6 separate regions of the Homo sapiens genome follow, and regions 2, 3, 4, 5 and 6 are each reported to be linked to region 1. Evidence: microRNA targets listed by miRTarBase, many of them from high-throughput screens and not tested one by one. Region 1 holds a microRNA gene; each other region holds the end of a gene's coding sequence.

Region 1 (5,107 bases):
ACATGAGCAGAAGGCTTGCCAAATGGGTCCTGACAGTCAAGAATTAGCGCTCAATCATTATTAACATATTGGGCAATGTCAGTGGTGGGGAGGGAGCCAAGCTTTGCTAAGAAACCAGAAACTTGGCTCCTGGCACAGGTGGGCTGTGGCAGAGAACAAACCGCATAGGAAGAAGAGAACCCTTGGAGAAGCAGCTAAAAAGGCAGTGAGAGAAATGAAGATGTCCATGTGGCTAAAGAGCAGACAGGTCAAGACAGCAGAATGCATGTTCCTGCACTCACTCCTGCATACCTTCAGATCTGCCCTGCTTGGAGGGCAGGCACTCTTGGCCTTCCTCAAACACCCAAGGAGCTTTCCCCAGGGATGCTGAGCATTGCTGTGCACTTGACAAGCCAAAGGCTCTCACCTGAACTGCACTGAGCAGCACCGCACAGAGGAGGAAGGGCAAAAAGGACGTCCCAAAGACCCAAAGGGTGAGCCAGGCTGCACCATCCAGCAGCAAGATGTGCAGCAGGTACAGCAGGAAGAAGACATGGTTGGCCTTCATGAGCCCCATCCGCTCCACTGTGGCCCGCAGCTCCCGGAACTCATCTGTCAGCTCTTTCTGCAGAAGAGGAAGAGGAGCTGTTATTCTTCTCATCTGCACCCCAATGCTACTGGAGACAAGGGCCCTCTCAGGCTCAAGGACCTCCCACTGAGGTAGCTGTGGGAAGTCCACAGTCCTAGGCAAAGATACCACGACAATGAGGATGACAGGAGGAGGTGCCATGGGATAGTGCCTAAGAGTTCAGGGGACTAAGTCCTTGCTCTGCCATTTACTAACTGTGTGATCCTTGGCTGTGTTGCTTAACCTCCCTGAGCCTGTTATCTCATCTGTAAATGTGTAAGAGTTATGAGTTTATGCTTGGTGCATAGTAAGTGCTCATATGATAACAATGATGATAACAATGATGGCAGCCATGGTAGTGGCAGCCTTGGGGGAGCCATAGGTTGCAAAGCCATGCTCCCTTGGGCCTGTGACCTCATGACTATGCAAGAGAAGCAGGGACCTCAAGACTCCCCAGAGCTACTACTGACTGTGATTACTATGACTGTGATCCCATCTAGACTCTCCTTCCACCCCCTCTCTGTCCCCCTCAACAACCAATAGTTGCGACATAGCAAACACAGGGTCTTACATTCTTGGTGGGCTCAAAGCTGGGCTGCTCTGGAGACAGTTCTCCAATCAGGAGAGAGTTCATATACTTCTTCACAAGGCCCTTGTTGATGTGGAAGGCCACAAAGGGATCCTGCAAGTGCCGGGAGAAGATGAAAGGTGAGGGAGCCAGCCCCCTGGACTCCGGCAGTGTTCGCACCAAAGGCCATCCTCCTGCCCGCCAGAAGGCTGTACCCAAGTTGAAGTGAGAGGTGAAGCCAGATGGACTTCCTGGGTCGAGTGCAGACTTGGAGAACTTTTCTGTAGCTAGAGGTTTGTAAAATGCACCAATCCGTGCTCTTTAGCTAGCTAGAGGTAAAATGGACCAATCAGCACCCTGTAAAATGGACCAATCAGTGCTCTATAAAATGGACAAATCAGCAGGACATGGGCAGGGACAAATAAGGGAATAAAAGCTGCTCCCGGCCGGGCGCGGTGGCTCACGCCTGTAATCCCAGCACTTTGGGAGGCCAAGGCGGGTGGATCACGAGGTCAGGAGATCGAGACCATCCTGGCTAACACAGTGAAACCCCGTCTCTACTAAAAATACAAAAAATTAGCCGGGCGAGGTAGCGGGCGCCTGTAGTCCCAGCTACTCGGGAGGCTGAGGCAGGAGAATGGCGTGAACCCCGGGGGAGGGCGGAGCCTGCAGTGAGCCGAGATCGCGCCACTGCACTCCAGCCTGGGCGACAGGGAGACTCCGTCTCAAAAAAAAAAAAAAAAAAAAAGGCTGCTCCCCCTCACACCCCCCAACGTCCAGCAGCGGCAACCTGCTCGGGTACCCTTCCACGCTGTGGAAGCTTTGTTCTTTGCTCTTCACAATAAATCTTGCTGCTGCTCACTCTTTGGGTCCACGCCACCTGTAAGAGCTGTAACACTCACCGCGAAGGTTCATGGCTTCATTCTTGACGTCAGCGAGACCACGAGCCCACCTGAAGGAACCAACTCCTGACACAGAAGCACAGGCCATCTCCCTAGGCCCAGCTGCCTTTTGAGGGTGCTCCCAGGTGTCCACAGTTTAAGATCACCGAGTATCTGCTCTAGTTAGAAGGATGCATCAAGGAATGGGAAGCATTGGCTGAGGGGAACCACTAAGAAACACCTGCCTGGGCTGGCCTTTCCCCTGGGTGTGTCCACAGACAGCTTTTGCCCAAGAATTTCAGTATAGGTGAGAAACAGGAGAGATGGGTGGGGCTGTGTCGGGCGTTGGTTCCTTCCGGCGGGTATGGTCTCACTGACTTCAAGAATGGAGCCGTGGACCTTCCCGCTGTTATAGCTCTTAAAGGAATAACACTCTTTGCAGACCCAAAGAATGAGCAGCAGCAAGGTTTAGTGTGACGAGCAAAAGAACAATGCTTCCACAGCCTGTAAGGGAACTGGAGCGGGTTGCAGCAGCTGGCTGGGGTGGCCAGCTTTTATTGTCTTAGTTGTCCCTGCCCACGTCCTGCTGATTGGCTCATTTTACAAACCTCTAGCTAGCTACAGAGCGCCAATTGGTGCGTTTTTACAGAGCACTGATTGGTGCATTTTACAAACCTCTAGATACAGAAAAGTTCTCTAGGTCCCCATTCGACCCATCAACTCCAGCTGGCTTCACCTCTCAGGGCTATGAGACTTCCGTCCCTTCTTGCGGGTCTTTCAATAAGTCCCTTTCCTCTCTTAGCTAGGGTTCTCCAAAAACCACGAAGAGGAAGACTTCCCTACGTCCGAACTGGGGCACTTCTGCGTTTCTTCCCTTTCCCTCCACCGTTGTTCTGGGTAGGGCTCCACATTTCCCTAAGCACTCTGGCCACCCCCTGCCCCAAGGCAGCTACTTTGGGTTGTGCAAGGTAAGGTCCATGGCGATAAGATTCACGTTGGCAGGTCCGGCAGCCCCGGGCCCTGTAAGTGATGCGGCGTGTGGGGCGGGGGCCGGGGCGGAGCCGGCGGCCGGTGGCACCACACATACGGACCAATCGCCGTCCCCGCCGCGGCATTCCCGGCCCCAAATCACACTGCGGGAAGCTCCAGCGTTGGTGCCTGTTTCGTCTGCGCATGCGCCGGGACACGCCTGCGCCCTTGGCCGCAGTCAGGGCTCCCGAGTGGTCACTCTGGTTGACCCGCGCAAGCTCTGGCCTCGCCCACTAGGCTGGTCGCGTCAGAGGGTGGGGCGGGTCTTCGCCCCGCAGCGTCTAAGCTCTGCTGCGACGTTATGGGAACCTGGTGACCCGCGGCACACTCTGGGACGCCAGGGTAGTGGATAGGGACAGTGGAGGGCATCACGCTGCAGGGCACGGGATCAGAGGGGGATGCAAGGGGAGGGGACGCCATTCTGGCCGCCAAGGGGGAAACGCGGTGAAGGGAACGCCCCGACTTTCGAGTCCCTAGGACTGAGTCCCCAGGACTCCAACCCAGCAGAGAGGCGCCGGGGCCTTAGCTCTGAGGGCTGTGGTCTAGAAAGGGAAGCAGCAGGCCTGGGGCTGGGGCGCGCGCCGACCCCGCAGTGAGACCAAGGGAAGAAGGGACAGGACCCCGCGAAGGGCCTACCGCCCCAGAGCGTAAACAGCGGTCCGCTCCGCGGAATAGCTGAAGACCTCGCTGGCCTGCGGCTCAGTGGCCTCCCCGGCGATTCGAGAACAGCTCTGGGGGTCCTCGCTAAGTGTATGCCATTCCCAATCCCTTATGTACGCCAGCGGCCGCTTGCCCTCCCCGGCCAGCGCTGTCCCTTCCGCGTCCTCCAGTCTTCACACGACGCAGGGGTCCCCAAGGCAGCGGTCTCCCCAAGCTTCCCGTTTCAGCCCCATCCTCGAGAATGGGCTCCTTTCCTGCTCCCTCTCCGCTCCTGCTGGCGAGTGGAGACCGGCACCTAGGTCCAGACGCGGCTGCGCTGCCTCTCCTAGCCATCGAGACAGGATGTGACTCCCTCCCCTGGCCACTGACCCCCTCCCTCCCCAGGCGGCCTGCATCCTTGCTCTCCTCCCTCCTAGCCTACCCAGCTCGGGGTTCTGTCCCCGCCCAGAGACCTGAGGCTCGGGGCTGCAGATGGAATGCACGGCAGGGAGGCGGGACCCTTTGTTTGTGTGTGCGTGTTGTTGGCCTCCATCCCCACTCCCCAGACTCCACTTCTCCAGGCCTCTCTCCCGCCTTTTCATCCCGCATCCGCAGGACACCCAATCACCGGGCAACAGGTATGATCAGGCGCCTCCGGGCTTTCCTCCGAATTAGTCGGTGTTTGGCTCGGAGTGCGTAACTCTGTCTCCCCTGCACTCAGCCTCCGGTCCCGCCCTCTCCTGTGCCCCCGCCTGGCTGCGCTCACCGTGGCATCCTGCCCGGCGTAGTGGCTGATGACCCGGGAGCCCCCTGGATGCCGGCGGGTGAACTCGCTGATGTTGTACACCTTACGGTCGATCACTAGCCACCGCTCCTCGCACCCTGAGCGCTGGGCCACCTCGTCCCAGGTGAAGTAGCGCGGGGTAGGTCCCTGAGCCGCGGTCTCGGCGGCCACCGGGTCGGGGGCCATAGCTGGCCTGGCGACGCCGCGCGCCGGGCCAGCAGGGGCTGTCAGGCGCGTGCTCGGGGTCCGCGGGCTCCAGGAGTGGATTTGCTGGCGCGCGCCCAGAGCCAGCCGCCTGCGCGCCGGGTTTTCAGCACCGCAGGGCAGACCGGCGGGCCTCGCAGCGCGCGTTCCCATTGGCCGAGCCTCGTGGCGCGGGGAGCGAGATCCCGTCCCCCGGTGGGTCTTGGGCAACTCACAGCTGGGCTGCCAACACGCGCCCCCTCGCGGGCTCCCTAAAGGCGTCGCCGCCGGATTCGACTTCCTGACGTCAGGCGGGCATCGCGGCGTTGGCTCCCAGGGGGCGCCGCGGTAGGAACAGCGGTTCTAGTGCAGGCCCTGGGTGCGGGGCCGCGCTGCAGGAGTGAATGGACTGAGGG
Region 2 (5,000 bases), not on the chromosome of region 1:
AACATTGTTGCAGCCTTCTTTGCCAACAGTGCACCAAAGATATCAATGCGCTACTTCCTGGACCCCCATTTGAGTAGCAAAGATGGAAAGCGGCGGTTCTCTATCTTGGCTGCCCATTGGAATCACCTGGGAGCTTTAAAGACTACTGACGCCTGCCAGATCAAGATATGGTTGGTGTGGGCATCAGTAGCTTTTAAAGCTCCCAGGTGATTCCAATATGCAGCCCAAGTTGAGAGCTACTGTTTTTTTTTTATTATTTTTTTTTGAGACGGAGTCTCGCTCTGTTGCCCAGGCTGGAGTGCAGTGGTGCAATCATAGCTCACTGTAACTAACCTCAAACTCCCAGGCTCAAGCAGTCCTCCTACCTCAGCCTCCTGAGTAGCTAGGCCTACAGGCACACACCACACCTGGCTAATTTTATTTTTGTGTGTGTGATTTTTTTCCTGTAGAGACAAAATCTCACTATATTGACCAGGCTGGGAGAGCCAGTGCTTTAGAAGTCTCTAGAATTATTCCTGTTTCAAGTGTTTGGGTTTATGGTGGTAAACACAAGGGTAGCTGGTTAGGGTAGGAAGAGTACTGATGAACTGAGTTAGGGAAGCGTTCAGGGACATCCAGGTGAAAGGGTCAGCAGATAACTCAGAGATGAGTGTAGAACTCCAAGAAGTTTGCACTGGACAAGAAGACTCGAGAGTTAGGAATGAGCCAAATAGAGTTTAAGTTAGGGCTGCATGGAACTCACTCTGGAAAACCCTGAGGATGTGCATCGTAGGCTCTCAGCTCAGTGAATGGCTGAGTGAGTGTCTGGGAAGCAGGGACAGGGTTTGGGGGGATGTGGAAGATGGCAGACACCCACAGGTCAGAACTAGTGGCCACAGAGATTCAGTCATTCAAGCAGCATTTTTGAGTGCCAGCAATGTGCCTGGCATGAGGTTAAATGACCATAGTTACCTCAAGGATCAGCTCTGAGAGCAAACAGCCAACATGTAGCACCATGAACGTCCTGGGAGAGACGTCTCAGCAGCTCACGGCAGCCTCAGCACGAACTGCCTGGGATTGGGGGCCACATGTACGGAAAACTCATCTCTTAGCCAGTTGTGCCTGGCACATGGGTTGGGTAAGGGAAGAAAGCTAACAGTACTGGGCAGCTATGAGGTGCCAGGCACTGTGCTAGCTTTAAATGCATTTTCACTGAGCAAAGCCAGGAGAAGCAGCAGCGTGGGGTAGTGGTTAAGAGTGTGGCTCTGGCACCAGGTAGTCTGGGTTCAAATGATTTAACCTCTCTGAGCCTGTTTTCCCTTCTACACATCATTCCTGCGAGGGCCAAACAAATCCATCCACATTCAGCATCTGGAGCAGTTCCTGGCTTGAGGTAAGCCCCCAGTCCTCATGTTCACTCCATAAGGTGGGCAGTAGTATCCTGGTTTACAGATGAGAAGACCGATGCTGAAAAGGGTAACTGACCTGCTTGAGGGCCATGGCAGTTTAGGAATGGAGCCAGGATATAAACCACAGGCTGTGTGTGGTTGTCTGACTCCCGCTGTCCCCTCTTCCCAGCAGGGAGTTGGGGCACAGGCCCCTCCACTCCTCCCAAGCATAGGTCATCCCAGCCAACACCCCACTTCCTTTCCAGGCTGCGTCAACGATCGGAAGAAACAACTGAGGCAGCTCTTCTGCTCCCTTCAAGTTCAGAAGAAAGCTTCCAGTTGATCCCCAGCTGCCAGGAGGAAATCAGCCTTAGCAGGTGCCACCCAGGCCTCCCCCCCACTCCCAGATCCCAGCACAGCACCTCACAGCATTCGCCTCCCCACCTCCAGCCTGGCACCAGCTTTGCTGGCTTAGCAGCTGCAGCTTACTACCTGAATTGGGCCCCTTGGATACCTCCAGCCCATCCCCAGGCATCTTTGCACCAGGAGACAGCCAATCACTGGGACTGGGGGAGGTTTAACCTTGACAAACTGACTTGGCAGTTAGGCCCAAAGAGAACAAATACAGCAAGTTCTGCTACCCCCAGGAGATCATATCTAATAAATGAGCACAGGCCCTACTTGGAGTCACTGGGCACCAGGCCTGGTTCCGGGGATACTGTTGGCTGCAGCCAAGTCCTCCTGGCTTTGACACTTGGATACCTCCCAAGTCAGTGCTGAAAAGGTCCTTCAGGAGCAAGAGTTTGGAGGCTAAGGAACTCGTCTTTAAGCTGTGCTTACACAGCAAGCAGTTATTAGATTGTGTGTTTATTGGGGGCCTGGGGAAGTACTGAGCCCTAAACACATCCTCTTCTCCTTGCATGTCAGGGGAGCCCATGGGGCTCCCTGACCATCATCTGAAAACCAGTGGGACAGGGCATCCCCATTTCTCAGATGGACAAGACAGACCAGGGAGGCAGAGCTTAGTGAGGGTCTCTGCAAAGGTGCATTTATCTAAGTCAGATGGGTGACTTAAGTGCTTCTCTAGGCCTTGTGTTTGAGATTGGGAGCTGAGCCAGAAACCGGAAAACCCTGGGCTCATGGGCAGGACAGCTTCGGGAGTTGAGTGTGAGTAAAAATCTGCCTTTTCACATCTTACATTGCTAAGCTTCCTCTTGGTTTAAGAGGGGTTGCAACAAGACTCGGGGCTGTTGGGGTAACTGTTCCAGGGGGGACTTACTCCCTCTACCACTCCGCCTGCTTCAGAGTAGTTTCTCTGGCTGCAAATGGTTGAATCTGCCTGCCTAGGTCAAGCCCGAAGGGAAGACTTTTGGAAGGAAAATACTGGCAAATCCAAGAAGTGAACCAGCCGACTTTAGGAAAGCCAGAAGCCAGGCTACTCTAGACCTTCTGCCTTCAGAGCATGAGGACTTCTCCCACTCATCCCTGTACCTGAGGCACACCAACCCAGACAGGTCCAGGCATGGACTCCAGGTTCCCTATTTCCAGAAGGAATGCGATTAGCTTTTTTTGGCCCAGCACCCACCCTGCCAGGGAGGAAGGGGCAATTTTCCAGTGATGAAATTGTGAATCAGGCAGTCACACTGGACAACATCTAGCAAGGTGAATTCTGCAACTCCCTACTTTATTTACATTTTAAAATAAGCAATATATTCATACGGTTTAAAATCCAAAGTTTACAAAAGGGTATAGGGTGACATCTCCTTCCCTCCCACCTGTGCGCCCCAACCCTGCAGGTGCTGTTCTGAGGGAATCACACTGTGCTTGCACAAAAATTATTAGCTTATAAGACACCAGCCTTCCCCTTGCTTTCCTCACTTGATGTATCTTGGAGCTTGTTCCTTATTCTTGATTATAGTTGTATGGTATTGCACTATCTGGAGCTAACACCTGTGACCCACACTCATGTTTTAAAAGTTTCTGCATTAGTCAAAAATATTTAAAAGGAGATTCAACTTCACAACCCATATGTCTAGCTTCTCTTGAAAACACGTAAGAACTGGCCATGACAGCCTGTGTTTCTATGTAACTATGAGCCAGAGCCAAGGAGCGGGGGGACCAGGAGAGGTGTGCCCCTGCCATGCTGCCATTTGTTATCACCCGCCTGTCAAATCACAGGTTTATTTCAAGGCAAGAACCATGTTCATAGGTTGTATTCTAAATGGAGTGGCGTGCCCTTACTGAAGGACTAGATGAGGCAAATAAAGACTAGTTGCTGCTATTCATTCATTCAGCTAACATTTATTGAGCCCTTAATGAACACATAAGAGTTTTGACTTCACGGCAGTTCATACTGGGACCTCAGACCACTGAAGGCAGACAGTAACGAGCAGTGCTGGCCGGGCCCCACTTTCAGAGGGGGCGGAAGGGCATCTTGACACGTGTCATATGGTAAGAGGCGCATCCACTCACCCAGGCCTGGTGCAGGACTCTGCAAGGCCCTCCTGAGTAAAGAGTGGCCACGAAGGGCTGCTAGGCAGCACCTACTCTTGGAATCAAGCAGGGAAAAAGTGCAAAATTGGAGCTGGCGGGAGGTGTGTGTGCCTGCCCCACAGATGGCTGTGGTGAGCCACAAAGCACCAAGATTCTGTTCTTCATTCAGCAACCACCCATGAGCCTCCTGCTTTATTCCAATCGCATGGCACCAGCCTGAAAACCTCTCTCCCTTCTGAGAGGAATGCTGGAATGACACTCCACTCTGCCCCTCCCTCCCTCCTTCCTTGCTCAGGGTCCATGTGAACAGCAGGCCATTGTTGGGAAGTGCCTGTTGCAGTCATTCTTACACCCCCACAGCCACTGCCCCACACACCCACTGGTGGCTACCAAGGCCCGTCAATAGATCTTGTGTCCACCGAGCCCTGGTGTCCAGGTCCAGCAGCCAGACAGGCTGAAGGTTCCCTCCTGCCATCACAGAGTAGCCAAGCACTACAAAGAGGTTTTCATGGCCAGATTCCTGACGGCTGGCCCCTTACAGGGCAGATCCTGTCCTTACAGGTGTCAAGGTTGGAGGGTCCTGGGTCCTCCATGACCCTGGGGGGTTGCTGGTCCCCCATCTTGGTTCTTGAGTCTCATCCTTTCAAGATGACCTTGAGAGCTTTAAGCTCATCCTGGTTGAGGGGGTTCAAGTTAAAACCCTTCAGCTCCGGTTTGCCTAGGAGAGAAGATGATCCATCAGCACGTCGGGCCTCCTGCTGGCTCTGGAGCCAGGCCCAGGAAAGGGGCTGACGCTGCACTAATGCTGCCAAACTCAGCCTGGAGGTCTGGCAGGGATGGGCCTCCAATTCTGCAATGCACCAGATGAGGCATCACCACTGCTCCTGTGTCACCAAGAGCCTGCAAACGCGTAACTCTGCTGCCCAAAGAACCTCAGGTTTTTCCAAGACCTGTGACCAATCTAGAGTGCTTGCATTTATCAAGAATTTCAGCTCTGACCTCACTCACTCACTGAAGCCTTCTGAGTTTCCTCAGTCAGAGCTATCTGATCCCCATGCCATGCCCCGATGTATAACGTGAGATCACCCCAAGCGGTTCCTGGGACCTGGAAAAGAAACTATGACAGGACTAGGACTGTAG
Region 3 (5,107 bases), not on the chromosome of region 1:
GAGATCAGCCTGGGCAACATGGTGAAACCCTGTCTCTATATTATAAATTAAGTAAATAAATAAATAAAAGAAACTTATGCTGATATGGACAATGGAAATTTAGAAAATTGTCTTTAATGTAATGTTTAAATGTTTAAAGTATCATCTATACTGTAATTACAATTGTATAAAATAATTTCCCATTTAGATAAGGAATGGAAAGAAATATAGGAAGAAAACAGTTGTGTCCAAGTGATTAAATTGTGGGTCATTAATCTTTATAATAATTTCTTTTGTAGCTGCTATAATGTTGAGTTCAAATAAATAAAACTTGGAAAGAAAAGGAAAACACTCAAGTGACACATTTTTCCATGCTAAGCAGAAAAGTCAGTGATACTTGGGAACAGTCCACATTTTTCCTTGCTCCTTCAAAGCAGCCTCTAATCTTGACCCAGATGGAGGGAATACTCATGTTCTTCTTGCTGGGAAGACTGTACTGTGGGTTGAATGGAACAGAAATCTCAAACTTTCCAGTATTGTTTGGTAACAAATGCAAAATGCATTTGAACCATTCATTGGTATAGTTTTTCCGTGACAAATATTATGCACAAAAATCTTGCAGACAGAAAATGATGTATTTTTTCTCTCCCCCCACCCTTTTTCTCTCTCTTCCCTCCAATTTCTGCAGTTCTGCTAAGCCAATATTCTCTAGAATGAGCACAAAACAAATCGAATAACAGCTAAACAAATCGAATAACAGCTAAACGAATCGAATAACAGCTTTTGTACATCAACATCAAGAAGGAATACGCCTGAGAGAGATCAGAGTATATAGATGAATATGAACAAGAATGGAACATTCACTTGTCAACGCACTTTCTAAATCTAGATCAGCAGAGATGGGAGTGATTTTCTGGAAAGAGATGTGATCATGGATTAAACACCAGCTCATTGGAAACTCATTGGATGAGATCAGAAAACGTTCATGAAAAATCATATTCAGGAAATAAGGAAGAGGAATATAAATGCTCTAGAGTTAACATGTAAAATATATACGTACTGAGGTTTGTAAACTGTCCTTTTTAAATCAAACTGAAAACAAAAAGCTTTAACCTTTCAACAGAATTTTTAAAAAGGCAGTTAGTTCTAAATTATTCCTATCTCAATAGCCAAGAGGCTGATCAAGCGTCATTTATTGAGGAAGCATCTTAGAAAATGCCTCTGAATGTTTTCATAGGAGCCGTGACCTTTGGTTCTTCATCTCTACCATTCATTTACTTCACTGTGTAATTAGTTACAACCACTCAGTTATTAAGAGACGTAACGCTTCAAACTTTTTACCAAGTCTGTGTTCTGTTTAATCTGTCCATACAAGTTATTACTGAGAAAGTGTTTATGCCATATACTATTACTCCATCAAGCTGTATATTACAGGAAGTACATCTTTACATCATAGGTTCCCAAGCAACATAGATTTCCCTATCTTTCAGGAAACAGCATCAAGGAACTCTGAAAAATATAGAAAAAGTTCATTTTCACCTTGGAAGCTCACGTGTAATATTATAGGCTACTATCAAATAAACACTTTTTTTCTAATTCTCCCTAGTATATGCATAGGAATTTAATATACTTTATAAATAAGTATCTAAAATGTCTCCTACTTTTTTCCTATTTCTTTGCCATACATGTTATCAGAAATCCATGTCTTCTATTTCCCTTACTGATGGGCACTCATTTTTATTTTTTTAAAAATCATTCCATTAAACATATTTCTAAATAATAGTAAGTGGTACTAACAAAATAAATAATAATTTAATAGCCTTAGAAATAAATGACTGTATACTTATACAGGTTGAAAAAAACTCGGTAGGAATAAGTTACCTTTTTGTTTACTAATGTTGGTTTCAAAAATACTCAGATTCATTTTAGTTGGCTGACATCTGGAAGTAGTTAACAACTAACCAGTGGACTTCAACAATCATTTGCTCCCAGGCTTCCCCCATCATCACCCTCACCACATATCCTGCTAATATCCAACAACAAACAAATATTTAATATTGAAATAGCCCATTGCCTGAGAATGAACACAAGCTAAAATACATGCAAGGGTACTTAATGGAAGCCAAACCATGTTCTATACCTAAGGAGAAAACATGGACATGTAGAATGCTTTTATTCATGTATTCAAAATCAGAACAAATCAGTGTATATCACTAGAACATCAGATGGAGGATAACACAAGAAGTGATACAGATCAGGGTTCACTTCTCTTACCCTCTCTCTGTTAGGACCACATTCCTATTTTAGCCAAATGTTTCTGGTACGGGCCATCTTTTCACCATAAATGGCATTATGTTTCAAATGGCTAAAAGCATATTATGGGTATGCTCAAAGGAGTAAAACCCAATTCACAGAGATGTGGCTTTTCTAAAGAACCAAATTAAGGGAATACTTAGTATCTACAACTAAAGTATTAGTCATTCTGAGGATTATTTGTTGCTTTAAGTATTAGCTCCCTACTACATCCATAACACCCTACTTACTAAATTTAATTACACACAACTTTTCAAGAATTCGTATTTTATTTGAAGGGAGGTACCTGTCTACTTTATCTACAATAAAAACAAAGGGTATTGGCTTTCTCTAATCCATGCAAACTACAAATTCCATCGGGAGTCCTACATCACTAACAGTGGTATGAACAAAACTAAGAAAGTACTTCCTATCCACATGTGAATGTTTTAAAAAAGTTTTTGCCATAAAACCTAAGTGTAATTTAGCATACCACAGTGCTCTGAAGATGGGTCATTGACGATGTACCATTTGTATATAGGTAATACACATGTAAATCACTAATTGTTAATTAAATATAAGAAGTAGGTTTTTATCTTTTTAAAAAAAAAACAAAAAAGGTGACTCCCTTTCTCATTCTGTTCTGTTGTATTGCGTCCAAAAGTTGTGTGTAATTTTTTTAAGGTCCAAGAAATGTAAAGAAATTTGTTGGAATACCTGAATTTCTGTAAAAAAATAAAAATAAAAATAAGATTTTGTTACTTAAAAGAATTTTTGGTGGTGTGGTACATATTTGGTGCATTCAGTTTCTGTCTTTGTCCAGTGATCTGGTGACAGCTGATGGTTCCACTGAAGTAACTATCTCGGAAAATCTCCCTGCTGTTGGATTCCATATCTGTCAACAGCAGGACTCTCATGTAGAAGGCATGGTTAACATCTCCAAAGCCTCTTCTGGCCAAATGTAGGAATATCTCCAGCTAATTCTCCATACACTCAGTGGAATGAAATTGATAACTAAATAAATAGCTGGACTACTCAAGTAAAACTTGACCTGCAATATCCAATTGCCCAATCTCCCCTTTGCAAATTGAAAACAACCAACCATTCCTCGCACATGAGCAACCCTTCATACTGGGTATATGAAGCAACAACACTTCATACTGGGTATATGTTGTCTGAGTGGGTTCCAATCCCTGATCCTTGGTTTACTATATGACTCTGAACAACTCTAAGCCTCAGTGTCCTCACTGGTAAAATAGATATAAATAATATTACTCAGCTCCATAGCATTGTTGTAAGGATATAAATTAAACTATACTGTTGTTGTGTTTGACAGGTAGGGGATATTCAGTGAATGTTCATTCCTTCCCCTCCTACTATATGCAAGACACTGAAGGAAGAAAAGAAACATAAAAAAAAGTCTCTGCTCTGAAGATCCTGAAGACAATTAGAGTGACATTTATAAGCAGGGATTGAAAATTCAAATGCGTACAAGGGCCAATAAATTCACAAAGCAAGCTCAGCTGGGGACATAATAGGGCGTAGTAGGAACTGGCCTGGCACAGTGGCCTCTAATCCCAGTACTTTGGGAGGCTGAGGCAGATGGATCACTTGAGTCCAGGAGTATGTGACCAGCCTAGGCAATATAGTGAGATCCCTTCTCTGAAAATAAAAAAAAAAAACAACAATAATTTTTTAAATAAAATAAAATAAATTTTTAAAAGGAAGTAGTGGGAACTGTGGAGCACTGAAGAGCCTAGGTCCCGTCTAAAGGGAATAAGTAGTCAACGCTCAGCTCTAATGATTCAAGAAATATGTATTGAGTTCCTACTATGTGCCAAGAACTGTTCTAAACTCTGAGAATATAGTGGTGAATCACACAAAACCCTGCTTTCCTTTCATAGGTCTTATGTTCTAGTAGGGGAAGACAGACAATAGACTGGAAAATGTCAGCTAATAATAGATGCCCTAAAGAGAATTAAAACAGGGTGATTGACAGAGAAATGGAGAGAGGAGTCAGGTAAGGCCTCCATGAAAAGGTGGCATTTAGAGTGAGACCTGAACAAACGTTTAAAAGCCACGTGTGAAAAAAGCAGAAGGCATGCCAGACCAGGAACGGCAAGGTGGCAGAGTGGGGAGCCACGTGGGCTAAGCTAGGACCCAGCTCTGGGCTTTGTAGGCCAGGATAGTTTGTACATTTTAAGTGTGAGAAAAAGCCACTGGAGGATCTTAAGCAGAAGAGTGATATAAACTATTTCACATTTCTAAAAGATTACTTTTGGTTTCGGCATCTAGCAGTATAAACTAGATACTCTAAAAAGCCTTTCTTTTTTTTTTTTTTTTTTTTTTTTTTTTAAGACGGAGTCTGGCTCTGTCACCCAGGTTGGAGTGCAGTGGGGCGATCTTGGCTAACTGCAACCTCCGCACCACCATGCCCAGCTAATTTTTGTATTTTTAGTAGAGACGGGGTTTCACCATGTTGGCCAGGCTAGTCTTGAACTCCTGACCTCATTATCCACCCACCTTGGCCTCCCATAGTGCTGGGATTACAGGCGTGAGCCATTGAGCCCAGCCTCTAAAAAGCCTTTCTTATGCCATACTATTAAATCTTAGATAAATTACAATAAGTTTATTTTTAACACACAGCTTAGATTATAAGAAAATAAGGGAAATTCCAAAAACATTTCAAAAAAGAAGTGGAGTGAGCTGAAAACTAAGTGTGAAATGTAAGCAAAGGCAAAAACTGGGCTTGCCTGAAGGTAAATCTGTATAACAAAGTAGGGAATGGAAGATTAAGCGTTGGGCCACTGGAAGCAGGTGAGTTAAATTTGACATT
Region 4 (5,000 bases), not on the chromosome of region 1:
CCTGTTCTTCTTGTATTACCTATTTCAATGATCGCCCAATCTTCCTCCCACTCAGCTGCAAATTCTAGGTCTTTAAATCTCTCTCATTCTCCATTTTTAAATAATTCCCGTGATTCTCTGTTCCCAGAATGTTCTCTGTTCCCTACTGTAATGCCCTGTTTAGGTCTCTCAGTAACTTTCTACTATACTATTAAAACAGGCCTCTAACTGGTCACCCCGCGTTTAAAATTCCTCTTTCCAATACATCCTTTATGCAGCCATTCAAGTTATCTTTCCAAAACAAAGAAATGCTTATGTCACTTCTACTCAAAGTTCAGTGCCTCGGAAAAATTGTCATAGCCCTAAAGGTAAACCCCTTCGTTTACAGAAAAACTCCCCAGAGCTAGAGATTCAGCAACTTGCCAAAAATTAGACATCTACTTAGATGCAAAACGTAAAAAACTAGAACTTAAAACTTCTGACTGCTACTTTAGTTGTCTTTTACTCTGCACCACACTAAGAAAAAACCAAGTGCAATTTCTCACTCCCTAACAAAATGCCCGACTTTATTTCCAAATGTTTTTTATTTATTGCAAATATGCTGCGTTGACCTTCGTTCCAACCTAAGTACTAATTCTTAAGTCCCAAGTTAATAATATTTAACTTCCAAATGGTGCCTAAATGCATTTCTGAGCCTCATGATCAAGTGGGATAAACTTTAATAAATTGGATTATCTTGAGAAACTTCAGAAAATAAATTCGACACGAAATGTATGAAGGCCGTAAACAATCCACACACTCCTGCCCCCCGAACTGACAGGCAAAGGAGAAACGGGCGACCCAGCCCAGCCGAGTAGGCAGCTGTCCCTTTTCCAAACCCAGAAAGTAAGTGGTATGAAAGGAGAGGGTAGCTCTGGACTGAAACATTCAGGGCAAGGCCTCCTGGCATCCTCTACCCCACACCACAAAGGCCTCAGAAATAAGGCCCCAAGGTCCGTAGGCAGGCCCCGGCTGCGGGTGCAGTCCAAGAGCCCCCGCCCCGGGGACTCGCTGACTCTGGCTTTCTCAGGACAGTCTGTTCCTATATCCCTACCCCCAAAACCAAGCAAAGGAGCAAGAACATCGCCCCTAAAAACCCGCGAGGGGAAGGGCCAAAGCCGCAGGGCTTCAGACTGGCCGCTCCCGGGCCCGCCAGATCCAGGAGGGATGCCCAAGGAGGGCGGTTTCCTCTCTCGGGGCGAACTCGGCCCCAGGCCCCAAGTAGCCGGTACTGGCCCCCGCCCTCTCGGGTACTACCTAACCGAGGAGGGGTGGCCAGGCCCACCTCGGAGCTCACCTTCCAGTTCCGGGAAGCCGGCCGGCCGTCAGTCGGTCCCGAATTCCGTCCACACACAGCGTCTTCCGGCTCCCGCCGGAAGCAGCTCGAGCGCGGGACAGGAAGTTTGGCTGACCCCCCACGCACACACCCACTCGCTCGCCTCAGTGTCGTGTGGCTGCCGCACTGCTCGGGACCCAGACGTCAAGGGTGCTGGCGGGGCCTCCCCAGGCCCGCGACGCAGGGCTCCGCCCCGGACAGGAGGAGCCGCAGCCGCCCCGCTCCCACTCACTCACTCACTCTCGGCCTTCGGGACTCCTATGTCCGCGAAGCCCGAAAAAACAGGTCAGCTAATTCGTTGACGTCACTGCCACCCCGCAGTAGCGGAGGGAGTAGTTTTTCCCATCAGCGGAGGCGTTGCAATGGAGGCAAACGCGAAAGAAAAGATCACTGCTTAAACATTTATCAAAGGTCTCCATGGAGAGGACCTTCGAAGTTTCACCGCCCGAGAAAGGAACTTGCAGAATCAAGTTTTGCATTATATACGGGACGGGGTATGCAGTGAGTCTGGGTTCCGTGTTGTAATTAGGATGTAAAGAGCTCTTGGATGTCCCGACTGCGGGCTTGAACACTTGACTTCCAAGCTGGATGCCACCTTGTTAAAGCTTTGTGAGTTTGACTGACTTCTTGAAATTACTTATTTTAAAATATTTGCGTGCGGAAGAATGAGAGACTCAACCGTGGGAATTAAAGGAGTTCTCTTTAAAAAGGCATTTTCAAGGTTAAAGATAAGCCTTGATGACAGGTTTGGGTACACAAATTACTAATGGTGATTTAAAATAAAGGAGAAACATTTCAGAGGAAGATAATTCCACTTTAGAAAAGCAGAGTAGGCCGGACTCCGTGGCTCACGCCTTTAATCCCAGCACTTTGGGAGGCTAAGGTGGGCGGATCACGAGGTCAGGAGATCGAGACCATCCTGGGTAACGCCGTGAAAACCCGTCTCTACTAAAAACACAAAAATTAGCCGGGCGTGGTGGCACGCGCCTGTAATCCTAGCTACTCGGGAGGCTGAGGCAGGAGAATCGCTTGAACCCGGGAGGCGGAGGTTGCAGTGAGCCGAGATCGTGCCGCTGCACGCCGGGCGACTGAGCAAGACTCCATCTCAAAAAAGAAAAGAAAAGAAAAAAGCAGAGTATAAGATGCAATCCAGAGTTGAGGATATTTACTTGGAGGTAAAGGTCCAGTGCTCAAGAAAGAGGTCAGAAATACAGATGGAGATTTGGGAGTTAGCAACATACAGAGAAAAGTGAAACCCCCTCAGGCGATGAAATGGTCCAGGAAAAGTAACAAAAAAGGGCCACTCACGAAAACTGGGGAGGCTGATTACCAACACAGTTTGAATCTACTTATTACAAATGTTGCATACAAAAGTATATTGGCAGTGTGTAGACAATCATAAGCCAAAACATTCAGAAACAATAATCTTCAGTTTTACTGTTCTGCGAGGGTTGAGTACAATTAATAAAACAAACTTTTGAGGTACATCAGTAGTTCCTGAACATTCATGTTTACAAACATTTGTTAATTTGCCCAGTCCTGTCATTTTCTGAAACTGTCTTTGTTGTCAATCTGTTTTTGTTTTTTGAGATGGAATTTCACTCTTGTCGCCCAGGCTGGAGTGCAATGGTGCAAGCTCAGCTCACGGCAACCTCCCCCTCCCAGGTTCAAATGATTCTCCAGCCTCAGCCTCCTGAGTAGCTGGGATTACAGGCGTGTGCCACCACGCCCAGCTAATTTTTGTATTTTTAGAGAGATGGGGTTTCACCGTGTTGGCCAGGCTGGTCTTGAACTCCTGACCTCAAGTGATCTGCCCGCCTCTGCCTCCCAAAGTGCTAGGATTACAGGCTTGAGACATCAGGCCCGGCTGTCAATCTTTTTAATCACCTACAAGTGATGTTTACATCTGTTTGCCCTCTCAATCTTTACAACTTGACAGTATGTGCCTGCTAACCTAAAATAAACATATGCTTTTCTCAATATATATGGAGTTTTTAGGCTATACAGTAAATTATTTGGCAAATACAAAGAGATGATCCTCTGGAGTAAATCTTGTCAACTTAACCAACCTAAGTTATTTATCTTCCCATACTAATCCCAACCCAAAACCGCTGGTCTCCTATCCCAAAAACTGTTACACAAGCTCCGAAACCCCCAATCCTGCCCCCAGTCCCTATGTACACATCATACCATTAAGTCTCTTTTCAGTCTACAATGTGAAAAAAAGGCCATCTCAATTCTATTTTTACACCAAGTTTCAGTTTAAGAATCATGTAAAACATTTCCAGTTCAACAAATCTTTACTCAGTGCCTCTCAAGCATTCTATTTTATTTTAAGCATTCTATTTTAAATTAATAAAAGTTATTAATATTAATTTTAAAAAACCTATTGTGTATGATTCATTAATGGTTGTATCAGATCATGTAAAACGTTTCCAGTTTAACAAATCTTTACAAAGTGCCTCTCAAGCGTTCTATTTTAAATTAATAAAAGTAATTACTAAAAGTTATTAATTTTTAAAAACCTATTGTGTATGATCCATTAATGATTGTATCAAATACCCTATGCAACTAAAAATAACACCTATGATCACATTTAAATCAAGAGCTATGTATAGTCTAAGGATTTTTTAACATATCTTTGAAAATATGCAAAATGGAAAAGAAATCTATGATTGCCTTGATGACATTTACAGCAATTACAAAGAGATTTCTTCTGAAATGCAAACTATCTGCTTTCCAATGTTACCTCCTGTCATCATGGACTGGAATGCAGCTGGAAAAAGAGAAAGTAGGTTATCTGAAAAGATAAATGTCACTATCATACTTGTTTCCAAAAGGTACAACATATAAAATTATGTTAAATAACTTTTTCAATGATTTTGAATATTAAGCATAGAAGAAAATGGTCATGAAAAGAAATCTCAAGTAAAAAGTTACACACAAACTAACCCAATTAACATCTTAAAAAAATGTTTTGCCCATACTGGAAAGATTTAATTGGTATCTAACTGGTATGCACATCAATGTTCATTGTTTACAGTATCTGAAGACTAGAGGCAAAAAAAAATGGGAATAAAATGTGAGTGAAGGCCGGGCATGGGGCCTCACGACTGTAATCCCAGCACTTTGGGAGGCCAAGGTGGGTGGATCACTTGAAGTCAGGAGTTTAAGACCAGCCTGACCAACATGGTGAAACCCCATCTCTACTAAAAATACAAAAATCAGCTGGGAGTGGTGGTGTGTGCCTGTAGTCCCAGCTACTCGGGGGGCTAAGGTGGGAGCATCACCTGAACCTGGGAGGTAGAGGCTGCAGTGAGCCATGATCGCACCACTGCACTCCAGCCCGGGTGACAGAGCATGGCCCTGTCTCAAAAATTAAAAAAAGGGCTAGGCACTCACACCTGTAAATTCCAGCACTTTGGGAGGCTGAGGCAGAAGGATCATTTGAGGCCAGGAGTTGCCTGGACAATATAGTGAGACCCTGTTTCTATGGAAAATTAAAAAAAAAAAAAAGGTTGGGCATAGTGGCAGGTAATTGTAGTACCAGCTACTCTGGTGAGAGGATTGCTTGAGCCCATGGGTTCATAAGTTACAGTTAGCTATGATCATGCCACTGCACTCCAGCCTGGGCAACAGAGCAAGA
Region 5 (5,107 bases), not on the chromosome of region 1:
TTCCAGCTGGTTCTCTAAGCATGTTGCTTACTTGGATGATAAGGGAAGCATGCCTAGAGGTCCCCTAAGGAGATTGGTCAGGTTATAGACTGAGACCCAAGGACAGGATTTCGCATCCATGTTCATGGACAGGACAGCACCTAAGTCCCCCAGTGCCACCATATTTACAGCATTTTAGAGTCAGGAACAGAGGGCTAAGTAGACCAAGAGCATTGGCTGCCTTTCAGACATCCATCTATATTCTAAAGGGATTGAGTTATTTGGGGTTAGGGTACAGAGATGGGCAGGATATAAATAGATGTCGCCAACGTTTCTGGATCTCCAAGACCTGTATCAGAATCACCTGAGGCACCTGTTCAGCTTGCAGATTCTTGCCAATACTTTGCCCCACCCCAGGTGAGAATCTCTGGAATTGAGATTCCCAGGTGCATTTGGTGTACAGTGACAGTTTGAGAGTCACCGAAATGGGGAAGGAGAGACTGTTGACTGGTGTGAAAAGTGTTGCTGGGGCCCCTTCTGAGGGGCTTATCTTGCCATTTCTTCATGTCCTCTTGCAGGCGAGGTGTCCAGGCCCAACCCCTCAATGTAGGCTTCTGTGAGCAGGAGTTTGAACAGACCTGAGCCCCAGGCACCGAGGAGGGTGCTGGCTGTAGGTGAATGGTAGTGGAGCCAGGCTTCCACTGCATCCTGGCCAGGGGACGGAGCCCCTTGCCTTCGTGCCCCTTGCCTGCGTGCCCCTGTGCTTGGAGAGAAAGGGGCCGGTGCTGGCGCTCGCATTCAATAAAGAGTAATGTGGCATTTTTCTATAATAAACATGGATTACCTGTGTTTAAAAAAAAAAGTGTGAATGGCGTTAGGGTAAGGGCACAGCCAGGCTGGAGTCAGTGTCTGCCCCTGAGGTCTTTTAAGTTGAGGGCTGGGAATGAAACCTATAGCCTTTGTGCTGTTCTGCCTTGCCTGTGAGCTATGTCACTCCCCTCCCACTCCTGACCATATTCCAGACACCTGCCCTAATCCTCAGCCTGCTCACTTCACTTCTGCATTATATCTCCAAGGCGTTGGTATATGGAAAAAGATGTAGGGGCTTGGAGGTGTTCTGGACAGTGGGGAGGGCTCCAGACCCAACCTGGTCACAGAAGAGCCTCTCCCCCATGCATACTCATCCACCTCCCTCCCCTAGAGCTATTCTCCTTTGGGTTTCTTGCTGCTTCAATTTTATACAACCATTATTTAAATATTATTAAACACATATTGTTCTCTAGGCACTGTGGTAGTGGGTTTTTTTGTTGTTTTTGTTTTTGAGACTGTCTCAAAAACTCTGTCGCCCAGGCTGACAGTGCAGTGGCACAATCTTGGCTCACTGCAGCCTCTGCCTCCTGGGTTCAAGCGATTCTCGTGCATCAGCCTCCTGAGTAACTGGAATTAATAGGCACGTGCCACCATGTCCATCTAATTCATATATATATATTTTTTTTTTCTGAGACGGAGTCTCACTGTCACACAGGCTGGAGTGCAGTGGCACGATCTCGACTCACTGCAAGCTCCACCTCCTGGGTTCACGCCATTCTCCTGCCTCAGCCTCCCCAGTAGCTGGGACTACAGGCGCCCGCCACCACGCCCGGCTAATTTTTTGTATTTTTAGTAGAGATGGGGTTTCTCCGTGTTAGCCAGGATGGTCTCGATCTCCTGACCTCGTGATCCGCCCGCCTTGGCCTCCCAAAGTGCTGGGATTACAGGCGTGAGCCACCGCGCCCGGCCGAATTCATCTATTTTTAGTAGAGATGGGGTTTCACTATATTGGCCAGGCTGGTCTTGAACTCATGACCTCAGATGTTCACTTGTCTTGGCCTCCCAAAGTGCTGGGATTAGAGGCGTGAGCCACCGCACGCGGGCCTGTGGTAAATTGTTGAATTTGAAGGACTCAGAGGCCCTGGTCAATTCCAAAATAACGTAGGCGACTTCCATCCCCCTCCTCCCAACCATTTTCAGCCCAAAGCATCTTCGCAGGGAATGGATGGCTGCGCGGAGGTGGGCGGTGGCTCTGGAGAGGGTCTTTGCAGGTGTGATTTTCTCTAGAAGGAAATGTCTCGTCGTGGACCCAGACTGCCCCCTCCTGGTTTCAGATGCAGAAGTGATACTGTAAGCCAGAGGCGGGGGCAGTAATGCATCGCAGCCATTTTAGGTGAGGATTTCCTTGGCGGTTATTTGTTAAGTTCTTTGGCTGGGCCCTGGGCTGGGGTAACAATGGACAGGTTCCAGGCATTTTTTTCAGAAAGCTTCCAGTGTAGTGGATACAGAAACTTCAGGAAGGCAGGGCTGAGAAGGATCTGAGTAAAACTCGGTCCTTCAACACCATCCTTCAGCCCCTGGGTCATGTTCCTTCGAGGTCCTGGTGGGAGGTAGACAAGCCTAGCCTTGTGCTGTTCCTGTAAGGACAGGGTGGGCATTTTCTACCAACAGAATTCTTGGAATTTTCACACAGCCCAGCCTAGCCAAGTCCAGGGCTATAGCCCAGATACACAAGTTAAGGTCCCAGCACTGGCACCCACCACAGGAGCCCCCTTACCTCTATTACCCAGAAGCTTGTAGGAGGGGTGGTCCGCAGACAAGGACCCTGCACAGGTGCGACCCTGCTTCCCTCCTGGTCATAACTTTCATGTTACTATTGCTTGGGATAATGTTAAGTAAAAATAGCAGACACTGAGTTTTAAGTCTCAAGTGGATGAAGGCAGAGATCGTGATACACTTGAGTTAAAGCAGTAGGGTTCTGTCATTTTCTATTCCTGTTGTAAACATTTTCTTTAATGTTATTATTTTTACCACTAAACTAACGTGGCCTGGTCACGACTTTCATTGGTAAAGTGTGCTGTTCCTCACCCTCCACCGTTGCTCCTTTGGTCCACTGATCATAAGAGCATTTACCTGAAGGTCGTCAGACCTCGAATGCCAACAGGTCAACTGCAGTGGCCTGCAGTTACCACCCAGTCTGTTCCAATGAACAGAATCGCTGTTGCCCCAACTCATCTCCCTTCACCTAGGCTGTAAATTGAAAGTCCCACCCCTGAGCGGAACACAGGCCATCTTGTGTGCTGTGCACCACCAGGGGGTGGGGAAGTTTCCAGACTGACTTCCTGGCTCCAGTCATCCTAGGAAAAGAGTTCTCCAGTCGCTCCCCACCCCCACCCCTTCCCATTCCAGGAGTCTATTAAGGAGGCAAAGCAGGCCTAACGGGTATCAAAGCAAAGGAGTGAATGGAGACTGGGAGAGTCTTCAACCTCTCCTCTCCTTGGTAGGAGCTGAGGCTGCATGCCAGGTACCTTCCCTTCGAGGAATCTAATAAAGCTAGGTCACTGGTGTTTTCAGGTGCTTCTCAAAGGATTGCCGTAGGGGTAGGATATCAGGATGTGGGAGCACAGGTGCCACCACAGCACTAGTGATGGAGAGTCATTGCCCCTAGACTTCTGGGACAGTGAGACTGTGAGGAAAGCTGAAATGATACTGGGAAAGGGTGAAAGAAAGGATGTAGGTGGAATTTATTTAGTATTAATGTAGGTACACATACCTTATGGCAACATTCCTAGCACTCTAAATTCTAGATTTGTATAGTTTCTGTCAATATCTTTTGTAAGCTTAATCAATACAGGGCATGACAAGTATGTGTCACATACTTTTTTTTCCACGAAGAAAAAAAATAAGTAGGAATTGGGTGCTTTGTTTATCAAAATTTGTATTTCCTTTATAAATAAACTTTGAAATAAAGGTTGAAAATTAGTATCTTTTCTAGCCGAGCCACCATTGTTTTTAAAAATCCTCTTTGAAGCAGGTGTGTGTGTGTGTGTGTGTGTGTGTGTGTGTGACGTTTTTCAACAAAATTTTTAAAAATCGAAATGTCAGGGTCAGGTGCAGTGGCTCATGCCTCTAATTCCAGCACTTTGGGAGGCCGATGTGGGAGGATTGCCTGAGCTCAGGAGTTAAAGACCACCCTGGGCAACATGGTGAGACCTGATTTCTACTAAAAATTAAAAAGATTAGCTAAGAATGGTGGTGTGTGGTTGTAGTCCCAGCTACTCAGGAGGCTGAGAAAGAAGGATCACTTCAGCCTGGAAGATTGAGGCTGCAATGAGTCATGATCACACCACTGAACTCCAGCCTCAGCAACAGGGTGAGACCATGTTTCAAAAAAAAGAAAAAAATTTAAATGTCCAGGAACCTTGCTTTTTTCACAGTAATTACTGTACTCTAACCACACCCATGTTTAGTCTAAACTATCCCAGTAAATACTCCTATTTTTTAGTGATTTCAAATGTTTCAAACAACAGAAAAGTCTAGAAAATAGTAAACAGTGTAACCACCCAGCTTTGTTGCATCTCAGTAGTCATATTTGCTTCAGATTTGTTTTTTTTAAACAAAAAAGATGAAACATTATTAATATCCCCCTTCCCAATGCTATTCCCTTCTCCAAAAACAACTGTTTTCCAGAATTTCTTTTTAATCTTATTTCCTCTGGAGAATCTGATACTTAGCTGTGATTTTTTTCATCACTTAATAAATTCTTTATGGCTCACTCTTTATAGCAAATTAGAAAGAGATGTTTTGGAAGCCACTCAAAAAAGGGAGTGTGTGTGGGAAAGGAGGAAGAGCAGCTGGCAGGCAGACACAGATGGGAAGGGGTGCCATGCTCGCTGGTGTGCTGCAGAGTGTGTGAGTGAGAGCGTGTGTCTGAGTGTCTGGATGATCTATTATGAAAGAGGATATTTGAACATAGGAACTCAACTGCTGGTGTTTATCTAGACTCACATGAGTCAGAAATCTGAATGAAGATAGATGTGGAGATCCAGCTAGGAGAACAAAAGTGCTTCGTCATTTTTATGTGCTTGCTGTGTCAGGCACTTTTGTTGTTTTTTTTTTTTTTTTCTTTTCTTTTTGAGATGGAGTTTTGCTCTTGTCACCCAGGCTGGAATACAGTGGTGCAATCTGGGCTCACTGCAACCTCCACCTCCCGAGTTCAAGCAATTCTCCTGCCTCAGCCTCCCAAGTAGCTGGGACTACAGGCATGTGCCACCACACCCTGCTAATTTTTGTATTTTTAGTAGAGACGGGGTTTTAC
Region 6 (5,107 bases), not on the chromosome of region 1:
CCCGCCCGGGCCTCGGGCTGTGCAGCTTCCTCCTAGGCCTGCCCGGGCCCATGCCTCCCCCGAAGCGGCGGGAGTCGGTGCAGCCTCAACTTCTACTGCGTGTCCCAGGTCGCCAACCAGCTTTGCTCGCGTGCCGTTGGCCCGGAGGCTGCCGCGCCAGTCTCTGCGTGCGCCTGAGCGCGCTGGAGCATTTGCGAGGCCAGGGCTGCCGACGGCGAGAGGATACTTTGAGGAACACGGTGCTTCAGTCCCGCCCCCGCTCTCCGCCCGAGCTGGAGGTTGGGGCGCGCTGAGCCGCAGCGCCTGGACAAGTGCGCGGGCCGGAGCCGCCCAGGCCTGCACCCGGGGGCTCGCGGCCGACGCATGCGCACGCGCGGTGGCGGGTCTGCAGGCCCGAAGGCCCGGCCCCTCCCTCAAACCCGGAGCGGGGAAGCCCAGGGGCTGAGAGCCTCGGCCCGGGTCGCAGGAGCTGGGGAGCGGGGACGCGGGCAGGCTAGGTCTTCCCACCTGCCGTCGGGGCTCCTCCCCGCAGCAGCAAAGGGGTCCCAGTGCCCGTGGCAGTGCATGCCCCAGCGGACACGCTGGCTCCCAAATTCAGAGATCAGAGGGGCGGCTGAGAACGGGGCGTCCGCTGTGTGTGACCCCTGACCGTGGAGGAAGGGCGGGAGCCGGGAGTAGGCGGTGGGGCCCGGGGTCAGGCCGCGGTCGTCGGCTCCCGGCAAAGGCGCTCTGGCCGGGGAAGGGGGCGAGGGTGGGCGGCCGGCCTCTGCCGTCGTAGTCATACCTGGGACGTTGAAATGGGCTTTGGGGATAGAGCTCACTCCCAGCGCGCCCCACAGGAGAAGCCCGCAGCTCAGGCCTGGGCCGTGCAGACCGCTGGGCGGGCTCGGGGCCCGAGGAGAGCAACACGGCGCGAGGTCCAGTCGCGAGTAATAACCCCGACAGCACGGCCCCTCGAAGACGTGTTCCGGGCACCGGGGTTGTGAGCGGGGGAGCCTCGGGCCTTGGGCCCGCTTGGCACGGGGCGGGGGCGCCTCCTCCAACTCCTGGAGATCAGGCCCAGACCCCGGGTGTTCTCAGGGGACACACTGTGGACGGTGGACCAGTTCCTAGCGCCGTTTTGTCCCCCATTGCCCCTGCTGCTTGTTAAAAGTATTAGCGACCCCCGTGATGGCAATCCACAATTTTTGGAGGGTGCGGGTGGCATGTACGGACGTGAAGGTCTCTTTGTGAGGCACGTCCACGCACACACAGGGACACTCATTTTGTAAAACCTAGATGGGCGCTGCCACCACCCCTCCATGCCACCCGCGTACCAATCAAGGATGCAGGTTGTAGAAAACACCTGGACGTGTGTGGGCTGCACCTTAAAACAGAATTCACCCAGTAGGCACTCCCAAATCCAAATAAAGTGCGTAGGGTGCTTTGAGACTTGGGGGGAGGGGTGTTAAAAAGTTACTTGTAAACAATACATTTAAGGTTATTTTCAAGTGAATGTTTAAAGTGCTGCCTGCTCCAAGCTCTAATAACACATTAGTGCGATAATAACACTCCTTGCATCTGCCAGGAGCCCTCCAACTGGCTGCCAGAGGTTCCACGAGGTTCGCGGTGGTTGGTGTAGGCGAAGGCTACTAAAAGGGGCGAAAAAGAACCCAAAGCCATGCCTGTGGGGTTTGCCAGCGCCGACCCGCTCCTCGCCAGCGCCCGCGGCCAAGCGGACCCGGCCTTCCGAAGGAGCCATCTTGCGCGCAGCAGCAGCAGCGGCTGAGCCTGAGCCCCTAAACAGCTGCAGAGGTGTGACAGGTTTATTATGCTGGGCCTAGCTCGCTCGCAATTCCTTAAAGACAAAGGGCAGCAGAGAGAGCCCGCGACGGGGCCTGGCCTACCCGGGTTCCACGCACCTCCTGCACAAACTCGGGCAAGATTGCTTTGCCATGGTATGTGAGTTTAACTGAAGGTTTAACTTTCTCAGTTTTTCCTTAAAAATATCAAGGTGGAAGATGTTTTGTAACATTTGAAACCAACAGCCAAAGTCTGGCAGAGCAGGAAAAAATAAGTTTACTGAAATTTAATTGAGATTTAAGATAGAAGAAACCCTGTAATAAGAATTGTCTTGAAGGATGTCCAAATGAATTTCTCTCATAGCACAGAAATAGATAAAAAATGCCGAAGTAAATCGATTCTCCTTTTCTCCTTTTAAACCACATACACCAGGAAGCCAAATGAACTCCCGCTCCTTCCATTACTCAGGGTGCAGGAGCAGTGAGAAGGTTGCAACCAAAAATACTTTTTAGTTTCCTTCAAACATGGATGCTGCCATCCGTTTGGAGAAGTAGAATTCAACATCATGGCTCAACTGGAGCTGCATAAACCCCTGCCTAGAATCTCTCCTGATTCTAGGTGTCCAAACAAGCAACACTGAATTAAACAGGGCCATGGCAAGCCTGAGGGCCCCTGGAATAGTCTCTCCTGGGTGTGGGAAGGGAGGTTCCGGTGGTCAGAGGAGAGGGGGTGCCTGCCCATCAGGGTCAAGGCTAAGAGGAATGTGACTCTTTGTGAGATTTGTTGGAGGATGTGTGTGACAGTGGGTTTGGGAGTTGGGTTTGCAAGTGTTTGTGAGAATGTGTGACTGTGAGATGGCATGTTTGTGGAGTGTATGTGCACTTGTGAATGGATGTGCATGGATGTTTGTGTTCGAGCCAATGTGTGAGTATGTATCTGTGTGTGTGCCCACTATCCCGCCCAGGCTGAGGCCCGGCCTCCCAGCAACCATGTGTTTCCAATTAGCAGCATCCCGCCTGGGAGTGCAGAGAAGGCGAGTCCTGGGACAGCTTCTGAGGAGCGGGTGGGCTAGCTCAGGCCCCCCAGTTCTGCTCCATCGAGGGCGAGGCCGCCCGGCCAGCAAGCTTTCACAGCAACTGGGCAGCCACACAAAGAGCCCTCTCTCCTGCGCCAGTCGTTGGAGACTCGGTCCTCCCCCAGATCATAAACCTGCCTGTGAAGACGTTCAGAAATAGTTTACCCGCACTCACACACACATGTGCAAAGGCTGGAATTCCATTTGCTATAAAGTTTTATTTTATTTTGCTTGGAAGGGGAGTGAGGGGGAGAAGTGTCCTGACCTAATTTGTTCTAGGGCAAAATACTGTATTTCATGTGGAGGTATACACCTGTACATGAATCCTTGCTTGCTGCCTGTGGGTGTCCTGCACATGTGTGCGTCAGCCTACCTGTAGCTGTACACCATACACAGCTCAGGAGCACACACCTGTGGTCTTACCCAGGCCACCTAAATGATGCATGCAAACAAACCAGATCCAGAGATCTGAGGCTGAGCCTTAAACCTTTTTATTATAGCTTCAAATTAACGCTGATGTCGTTCAAGTGCATAGCACAATGTCTGGCATGTATTAGGCACTTAACATAAATGGCTGAATGAATACATTAAACTGAGATTTAAAAAGTGACCTAGTAGTCATAAGAAGAGGCTGCAAATAAGCACTGTGTAAAAGATTCTAGACCACAAGGAAAGGCACAGGCTCAGAGACCTCTAGGTAACTTGGTGGCTTTGCCATGGAATGTTCCAACAGTATTTGCTTACCTTCAAGTTTCTTCTTCTGACCCCCCTCTATTTCTCAAGACTTCTTTTTCAGATGGGTGAGAGCCCTTGGGTTCTAATTATAGTCAGCAGAGACCAGCCAGGGTGTGAATTCCTCCCTTCTGCAGGAACTAGGTTTCCAGAGTGACTTGTCACCAGGAGGGGGAAAGAAATGTCCCAGGCAAAGACTAAGGAGGAGGCTCGCCGGAGCACCCCCGCCCCCCTTAGCCTTGCAGGAGTCCTCCCACCAAGGGCTTTCTCAAAACAGGGCAAGGCCTGACCACAGCGATCTCATTCCAAGGCCTGGATTGTGGGGTTGTTTGGGGACCCCTATAGCCGTGTTCATAACTTGGGAGAAAACATCCACACTGACCCTGTGAATGCTAGTTCACAGAAAGACCATTTTTAATATGAAAAGAGAAAAACAATTTGAAGGCCCCACAATTTGTTGTGTAACAACATAATTTCAAGTAAAGTGAATGTGATTAAAACATCTTGATTTCACAAAGCCATTCAGAGGAGGCTTCGACAAACGCAAAGCGACCCAAACCCTGGAGGGTCACATCCCGGCTGCTACAAACCTCGGCGGGGCGGCCCCGCTCTTGCGGCCGGGACAGCGCAGCGGCAGCAGGGGCCGCAGGGGACCCGCAGATTGGCACGCCGCTCCCCATCCCCGCAGCGCGTCTGCACCGGAGACTCTGCGGGGATTGTAGCCGGAGGGCGGGCCGGGCTCCGAGGCGCTGCTCAGGCATTGGGGTTTGTCCTCATGAGCTCCACGTCGGCGTGCACCATCTCCCTCACCAGCTCCTGCAACACAGGGGTGGGCGTGAGGGAGGAGCTTCTGCCACTCTCTCCTGGTGACACCCCACCCCGGGTGTCGGCCCCAGAGAGGCCTCCGCGTCCCTCGTTCCAGCTCCCCTCACTTCTCCCGCACCCCGCCTTCCGGGCTTTGGGCATCGCAGGCGCCTCAGGCGCCCGACCCTGAGAGCTGCCGCCCTGCAGCCCGGGGCCCCGCAGCGGGCGGCGTGCGCCCTAAGAGATACTCACATCGAAAGCGACCCGGGGCTTCCAGTTCAGCTTCTGTTTCGCTTTGGTGCAGTCGCCCTGCAGAAAGTCCTAGGGAAGAAGAGGGGGAGACGAAGCAGGCGTGGGTCGTGGGGGTGGGGGCAGCAGGTCCCGAGCCCCGGGAACTCCCACCGTTCCGCTCCCTCTGGGCGCACAAGGCTCCGGGTTTCCCTGCTTTCGGTCCCTGCTGTGCGCGTTCAGTTGCGGCTCTCGGCGCCGTAAATCACTAGGTCGCGGTTAAGAATGTGCTGTGCGGACCCGTGAGGACCGTGACCGCGATCCACCCCCAGCTACCTCCACACCTCTTCTCCCCAAGGCGTCCCTTGGGCTCTTAATGCTTTTTTTTTTTTTTTTTTTTTTTTTTTATAACATGAAGTTGTCAGGGACGCTCCTATGAGAACTGTTTGGAATTGCTGCACTTCTCTGGCTAGGAGGGAAGTGAGT

What was found. Region 1 holds the annotated microRNA hsa-miR-1908-5p (CGGCGGGGACGGCGAUUGGUC, at 3,145-3,165, opposite strand). A microRNA usually pairs through its seed, bases 2 to 8, with sites in the 3' UTR of a target mRNA and lowers its output. Matches are read on the target gene's strand: a 7mer-m8 pairs with bases 2 to 8, a 7mer-A1 pairs with bases 2 to 7 and ends in A, and an 8mer does both.
Region 2: the mRNA of PDRG1 is a reported target of hsa-miR-1908-5p. Seed matches in the 3' UTR shown: 7mer-A1 at 3,953-3,959.
Region 3: the mRNA of LHFPL3 is a reported target of hsa-miR-1908-5p. The part of its 3' UTR that is shown has no 7-base or 8-base seed match.
Region 4: miRTarBase lists PTGR2 as a target of hsa-miR-1908-5p. The part of its 3' UTR that is shown has no 7-base or 8-base seed match.
Region 5: miRTarBase lists HEXA as a target of hsa-miR-1908-5p. Seed matches in the 3' UTR shown: 7mer-A1 at 1,606-1,612.
Region 6: miRTarBase lists GMDS as a target of hsa-miR-1908-5p. Seed matches in the 3' UTR shown: 7mer-m8 at 4,183-4,189.

Annotation. Positions count from the first base shown.
Region 1 is chr11:61,812,065-61,817,171 of GRCh38, forward strand. It overlaps MIR1908 (microRNA 1908), which reads right to left and starts at 3,176; the gene lies at 3,097-3,176. It overlaps FADS1 (fatty acid desaturase 1), which reads right to left and starts at 4,939. Exons shown (of 12, transcript NM_013402.7): 1 at 4,491-4,939; 2 at 1,179-1,289; 3 at 407-604. The coding sequence starts at 4,865. It also overlaps a transcript of FADS2 not described here. RefSeq lists silencers at 3,021-3,140, 4,661-4,860 and an enhancer at 3,243-4,140.
Region 2 is chr20:31,941,312-31,946,311 of GRCh38, forward strand. It overlaps PDRG1 (p53 and DNA damage regulated 1), which reads right to left. Exons shown (of 5, transcript NM_030815.3): 5 at 3,026-4,578. The coding sequence ends at 4,496. TTLL9 (tubulin tyrosine ligase like 9) reads left to right here. Exons shown (of 15, transcript NM_001008409.5): 15 at 1,634-3,689. The coding sequence ends at 1,710. Among named protein-coding and RNA genes, the nearest start is that of PDRG1, 8.2 kb to the right of the region's middle.
Region 3 is chr7:104,905,520-104,910,626 of GRCh38, forward strand. It overlaps LHFPL3 (LHFPL tetraspan subfamily member 3), which reads left to right. Exons shown (of 3, transcript NM_199000.3): 3 at 668-3,042. The coding sequence ends at 696. All of the region lies in intron 3 of LHFPL3-AS2 (LHFPL3 antisense RNA 2), which reads right to left. Among named protein-coding and RNA genes, the nearest start is that of LHFPL3-AS2, 19 kb to the right of the region's middle. RefSeq lists a silencer at 4,660-4,816.
Region 4 is chr14:73,883,231-73,888,230 of GRCh38, reverse strand. PTGR2 (prostaglandin reductase 2) reads right to left here. Exons shown (of 10, transcript NM_001146154.2): 10 at 2,505-4,130. The coding sequence ends at 4,054. It overlaps ZNF410 (zinc finger protein 410), which reads right to left and starts at 1,372. Exons shown (of 12, transcript NM_021188.3): 1 at 1,316-1,372. RefSeq lists enhancers at 1,313-1,382, 3,014-3,123 and a silencer at 1,433-1,712.
Region 5 is chr15:72,339,591-72,344,697 of GRCh38, reverse strand. It overlaps HEXA (hexosaminidase subunit alpha), which reads left to right. Exons shown (of 14, transcript NM_000520.6): 14 at 558-3,774. The coding sequence ends at 621. Among named protein-coding and RNA genes, the nearest start is that of CELF6, 22 kb to the right of the region's middle. RefSeq lists an enhancer at 1,841-2,340.
Region 6 is chr6:1,619,827-1,624,933 of GRCh38, forward strand. It overlaps GMDS (GDP-mannose 4,6-dehydratase), which reads right to left. Exons shown (of 11, transcript NM_001500.4): 10 at 4,646-4,714; 11 at 3,980-4,405. The coding sequence ends at 4,343. Among named protein-coding and RNA genes, the nearest start is that of FOXC1, 12 kb to the left of the region's middle. RefSeq lists an enhancer at 4,662-4,771.